Regions from separate parts of the Homo sapiens genome. Here region 1 is linked to region 2. The links come from fine-mapping of genetic effects on gene expression. A gene starts in region 2. The other region holds a variant in brackets. All regions are shown on one strand. Distances are between the middles of the regions. Region 1 overlaps FAM107A (family with sequence similarity 107 member A). Region 2 holds the start of ACOX2 (acyl-CoA oxidase 2).

Region 1 (2,901 bases), 29 kb before region 2:
TGGTCTCTGCAGTCAAACAGGCCTGGGTTCAAATCCTCATGTGGCCTACCTGTAGCTATGTCTTGGACTGGTATCTTCAGCCCTAGGAGCCTCAGTTTCTGTCCCTGTAAAATGGGACAGTAATGGGTCCACCTCCAAGGCTACAGGGAGGATTGCACAAGATAATAATGGGGGTTGGTGTCACCGCAGGAAGCAGCCCTGAGGCTGGGGGAAGCGGGAAGGTGATGGTCTCCTGACAGCTCCCCACTTCCCACCCCAGGGGCCTTGGTGTGGACAGCAAGCCAGAGCTGCAGCGTGTCCTAGAGCACCGCCGGCGGAACCAGCTCATCAAGAAGAAGAAGGAGGAGCTGGAAGCCAAGCGGCTGCAGTGCCCCTTTGAGCAGGAGCTGCTGAGACGGCAGCAGAGGCTGAACCAGGTGGGTGATGGGCACCCAGCAGGGACCACGCATCCTCCAGGGCTGTCCTCCAGGGAGGAGCTCTGCTGTGGCCACAGCTAGTAAGAGGGAAGAGGATCAGCAGACAGAGCACTGGACTAAGAGTCCACTCCTGGCCTGAGTCCTCCCTCTGCCATTCACTTTGCTAGGTCCTTAGGGCGAGTGGCTTCCCTGAACCTCAGCTTCCTCACTGGCCCAGTGTACTGCATGCTGATTCTGATTTCATTCTTATAACTGTCTTGTGAGCCAGGTGGCATTCCCATTTTAGAGATGGGGAAGCTGAGGCCCAGAGGGGGTGAGTGATTTGAACCAGGCTGCACAAGGAGAACTCAGTCTCATGCTCTGTGCCCCAGCTACCAGGCTGATAGCAAAACTCATCCCCAGGTTGGTTCTGTTTCCCCACTGAGTGGGCCCTTGGTCCAAACTCCACAGGTTTTCAGAGTAGGAATCCCCCTAGCTCCACCCACTTCACTCTCTGCTTCTCCCTCCTTCAGCTGGAAAAACCACCAGAGAAGGAAGAGGATCACGCCCCCGAGTTTATTAAAGTCAGGGAAAACCTGCGGAGAATTGCCACACTGACCAGCGAAGAGAGAGAGCTGTAGGGCCAGCTGCCGGGCTCAGGCCACTGCCCACCCTGGCCTGGACAGCCTCCTTCAGCCCTTCTGTACCTGGCAGCCCTGGGCCCCAGGCCCTGGGACGTCTGTGATGTTCCCACCTGCTTCTGTAGAAATGTGTCACCCCAGAGGGCCTGGCTCTCCCTGGGAGGCTGGGGCCCCTAAGCTCCTAGGTTTTCCTTCCAAGCACCCAGCCCTCCTGCTCCAAGAGGGATAACCTGCACCCCTCCCTGCAAGGGGTTCAGAGCCCAGCACAGGAGCTTTCTCTGGCAGAATTGAGGAGGAAGAGGTGGCCCTCTGACTTGACAAGCCTTCTGTTCTGCCCAGGCCTTCCCACCAGGAATCTCCGAGGCTCCCCAGGGCCCCGCTTCTCCGTACACCCCAGCTCCTAGGTCTCAGAGAACTCCCC[C/A]ACCTGTGGTTTTACCTGCAGCCAGCAGAGCTTAGCTTCAAGGACACCTGCCTTCAAAGCCACTGAGGGGAGGAAGGGCAGGGCAGACTGCAGATGGCCTTGTTGCTGGCATCCCGGCCAGGTGGGCGGGGACTAACAAAGACAGCTGTTTAGGGTCTTCTCCCCTCACCCATGCTTTCATCATCCCCTCCGCACAGCCTCCCCGTCCAGGCCTTCTAACCACACCTACCCAGGGCTGCCGCATTCCTGCACTCAGAAGTCTGCAGCGGTGCCTCACAAACTTGATTGTGCATAAAAATCACTGGGGATCTTGTTAATACAGCTTCTAACTCAATAGATCTGGGAGATCCTGCATTTCTAACAAGCTCCCAGGTAAGGCGGAGGCTGCTGGTGTGAGGACCATGCTGTGAGCAGCAGGGCGAGAGTGCCCAGGGCTGATATATATTGGAAATATCACCCCTGAAGCCATCGCTGGCCCCCACCTCCTGTGGACTGATGCCCCAGGGATTCCCACCCCACTTCTGCAACCCCAGGTATCCTTCATTATCCACCCCATCCCAGACTCCCACCCCAGGGATTGCCCGTGAAGACTTTGGCCTAGCAAATTGTGTTGGTTATGTGAGTGTTGTTTTAATCAGAGATGTACATGATTGCCAATCTGCATTTCTTACCAGTGTGACCACACTGTTACGATGCAATTCTAGCCAAAAAAAAAAAAAAAAAAAAAAAAATTTTTTTTTTTTACTTTTTCCTAGTCTTATGGAAAGCAAATATACAATGATTTTCAGTAGGCTTCTGGAATAGAAACAGTGGTTTGAAGACCCCACTGCCACCTTTATGGACTGGCCCCTTTGAGTCTGAATCCCCGGCCTCTGTCACCTGAGACCCAACCCCTAGCTGGGCCAACTCCAGTGAATTCACCCATTTTTCTTCTTCAGAAGGCCTTTCCTGTGTGAGACCCACATATTTTAACCTTTTGCTCCTATCCCATTTTTAAAGAATTAGAGAATAAACCAGGCCTGTTTCTTTTCCCCTGAAATCCCTGCCTCTGGCTTCCTAAACCCATCATCTAAGGTGACAGAGCAGTGCTGGAATAGCATCTCCTTTCACTTTCCCAAAACTGCCACAGATAGCTGCCACTGGCATGCTCTTTGATTCCTGGAAGCAAACGTGGGACTGTCGGAGGAAAGGGATTGTTCTGGTCTTACTCATAACTGGGTGGTTTGAGGGTGACTGAAGTCGTGCTTTTCCTGTGTGTGCTGCCAGCACAGGGCTGTAAATGCAGATATTGCGCCTGTGTGCGTGTGTATAAGTCAAGCTCCAAGAGGCTCCTGAATGTGACTGGCGTGCTGAGAATGTGTTTACGCTGTTTAATGTCTGCCAGGTGAGGGTTACACTGAAGATGCACAATCCCTAAAATAAAGATCACCACTTCCCCAAAGAA
Region 2 (2,901 bases):
GCCTCAAGTGATCCTCAAGCCTCAACCTCCCAAAGCAATGGAATTATAGGCGTGAGCCATCACGCCTGGCTCAGTATAACAGTTTCTAAGTTCTATGAGTCTTCCTAGCAAATCACTGGACCTGAGGTTGATCTTGGAGAACCTCTGACACACTCAAATAAGTTCTGAAGATTAGCTGACAATATTGCAGCAGTGTTAATGGCTTGGTTTCATAATTGTACCTTAGAAGAAGCTGAGTGAAGGATATACAAGAACTTTTTGCAGCTTTCTGAAATTCTAAAGTTATTTCAAAATAAAAAGTTAAACACAAAGAACAAGGAGACAAGTGTGATCATTGTTAGTGCTGGGTGTTAGGTACATGCAGGTTCATTATATTTTTCTCTCCACTTTTGTACAAGTTTGAAATATTTTGTAATTTAAAAAGCCTTTTTAAGCTAGAGAATTCAAGATTTCAGTGCAACAAATCAAAATGATCACATCCAAAACATACAGAACAGGGTCAGCTTCAAAGCGGATGAGAAAACAATTTAAACATGGAGAGTTTATTAAAAAGCCTTGCTCCAAGGGCCCCTGAGCAAGGCTTTCTTCACTGGGCACTTCCTGCAATCCAAGCCTTTCTCTATGGCAGAGAGGAACTAAGTCATTGCCCATGGTCAGTGATAGCATAAATCCTTGGCGGAGATGAGTCCAGGTGTAAGTAAGAACTTTCACCTCCAAACAGTGGGGCCAAGACCACCTTCCCTGAAACCACTGCCCACAGCAATGAGGACTGCCAGGAGTCTGAGCCCCACAGCTCCAGAAGGACCTACTAGGTGATAAGTTGCAAAGCTTGGGCCACAGGTCCTGCCTCTTCCTACAGACACAAGCTAGACACTACCTTGGGGATATGATGGGGTGCTGTGAGGCTCCTTACTGAGCAAATACCTTGCATTACAGGGGAGGCCAAGGCCCAGAAAGGAGTACACCTGCTCAGAGTCAACATAGCTCAGAAGTCCTGCCAGAACAGGAGCCTTGATCTCCTACTGGCCCCTTGATTTCTTTCCCAGTCTTACACAAATGTGTTACGTAATCTACTTATTGTGCAAACCCAAACAAAGTGACATCCCTCCCTGAGCCTGTTTCCTTACCTGCAAAATGGGGAGCCGCATCTGACTTTCCAAGGTGGTTATGCAGGGAGGGAACCTCTAAGCCTCTCATTCCTCTCACTAAGACCCAGCTCTCATCTGGATCCCACACACTACAGATGGATGCTTCACAAATATTTTTCCAGGGAATGTCAGGGGATGCTAAGCATAAGACAAGCCATATTTTAGAGCAGAAACATGGGGAGAGAGGAAAAACGTACACCTTACAGAGCAATCCTTTCACATGAGGACCATCTCAGGGGAGCCTATTAAGCTCGTGTGATATTAACAGCTTGAGTGCCTGAAGGGCACACAGTGAAAGATCAGGGAAGACCAGGATATCACTTTGGAAACACTGCTGGGGTACACAGCTTTTTGGTACAAGTAGTGTCAAAGGAATCCCTGGCTTTGAGATGTAAGGGCTCCAACCTCCCAGAAGTCCTCCCAGGGCAGCCCCAGCGACAGGCACAAAGGTCACACCCATGCAGGAAGAGAGGGAGGAAGGAGAGGAGCTCCATAAGCCCAGACAAGGGCTTGAGAGCAGACAAGGGCTTGAGAGCAGACAAGGGCTTGAGAGCAGACAAGGGCTTGAGAGCTGGCCAAGCAGTTTCTCTCAGCTTCTGTGTTCCAGCCCCTATGTGGGAGGAGAGAAGGGCAGGACCACAAGCCTGCCAGAGGCTGCGGCCTACAGCCGGGGAGAGGCCAGCCCGGCCTACAGTGCGGACACAGGACAGAGGGGAGCCAGGTGAGCCAGGTTTTTGGGCAGGGAGGGACTGGGAGACCCCAGAGGAGAGGGCTGCCCCCATGATGACCCTGTCCGCAGCTCCGAGAGACCCTGAGCAAGGCTTTCTTCACTGGGCACCTCCTGCAAATCAGGCCCTGCACTAAGTGTTAGGGTCACGGCATGACAGTGACAAAGATCCCGGCCCTCTTGCAGTTTCTGTGTTAGTAGCAGGGAGATGGAAGTAAACAAAAACATATGAAATGAGTAAATGATCTCAAATGTCAGAAGGGGATAAGTGAAAAGAGAAAAAGGAGAGCAGAGTGAGGAGGACAGGGAATGCCGGGGGAGGGGGCTTGGGGTTTTAAAGAGGGTGGCCTCTTTAAGGTTAAATGAGGTTCAATGCAAAAAGCCCTAGTGACATTTGAAGAAAGGGTGTTCTGGGCAGATGGAGATGCCCTAGCAAATGCTGGCAGTGGCAGGGAGGCCTGGAGCATTCAGAACAGCAAGGAGGCAGTGGCAGCAGAGCAAGGAAAAGAGGTAAGGCAGGACGAGAGGAGCCGCACTAGGGGCACTTGCAGGACTCCGGGGGGCAGAGGATGGGGCCCCTTGCCAGCACCCCCACAGCCCTGCTGGGGGTATTGGTTTGAAAGCCTCATATGAATCATTTGCTACATGTGGTTGCATGACCCTTATAAAGTCTCCTCCCTTTCCAAGGCCCACATCCTCTCCATAAAATGGTAATAACAGCAGTGCATCTGTCAGGTTGAGGTCAGGAAGGAAGGGGATCAAAAGCATGGCAGCCTGCCGGAGAGATTTACAACATACCTGCTGCAAGCTAGGAAATGCAGAGCTGGCCTCCCAGGCCTTGTGGGAGGAACATGTAAGCAAATAAGAACTTGTCCCTAACCCTAGAGCACCCAGGGAACGAGGGAGCTGAACTTTGTTCAGAGAGAACAGCAGGGGCAAAGGGTAGGAAGAGAATGAGTGGAGGCCAGGGATGAGGGCAGTAAGTTGACATAGGAGAGAGGTGAGTGGAGTAGGGTTGGGTAGACA

Evidence for each region.
Region 1: its variant is fine-mapped to the expression of ACOX2 in pancreas (GTEx, PIP above 0.99).

What each region holds. Positions count from the first base shown.
Region 1 is chr3:58,564,723-58,567,623 of GRCh38, reverse strand. FAM107A (family with sequence similarity 107 member A) reads left to right here. Exons shown (of 4, transcript NM_001076778.3): 3 at 260-416; 4 at 929-2,901. The coding sequence ends at 1,036. The region is part of intron 1 of LOC107984079 (a long non-coding RNA gene); the gene reads right to left. Among named protein-coding and RNA genes, the nearest start is that of FAM107A, 11 kb to the left of the region's middle. RefSeq lists enhancers at 879-1,402, 1,403-1,927. The variant C/A (reference allele first, on the strand shown) is at 1,458.
Region 2 is chr3:58,536,087-58,538,987 of GRCh38, reverse strand. ACOX2 (acyl-CoA oxidase 2) reads left to right here and starts at 1,798. Exons shown (of 15, transcript NM_003500.4): 1 at 1,798-1,869. LOC107984079 (a long non-coding RNA gene) reads right to left here. Exons shown (of 3, transcript XR_001740724.2): 1 at 2,674-2,901.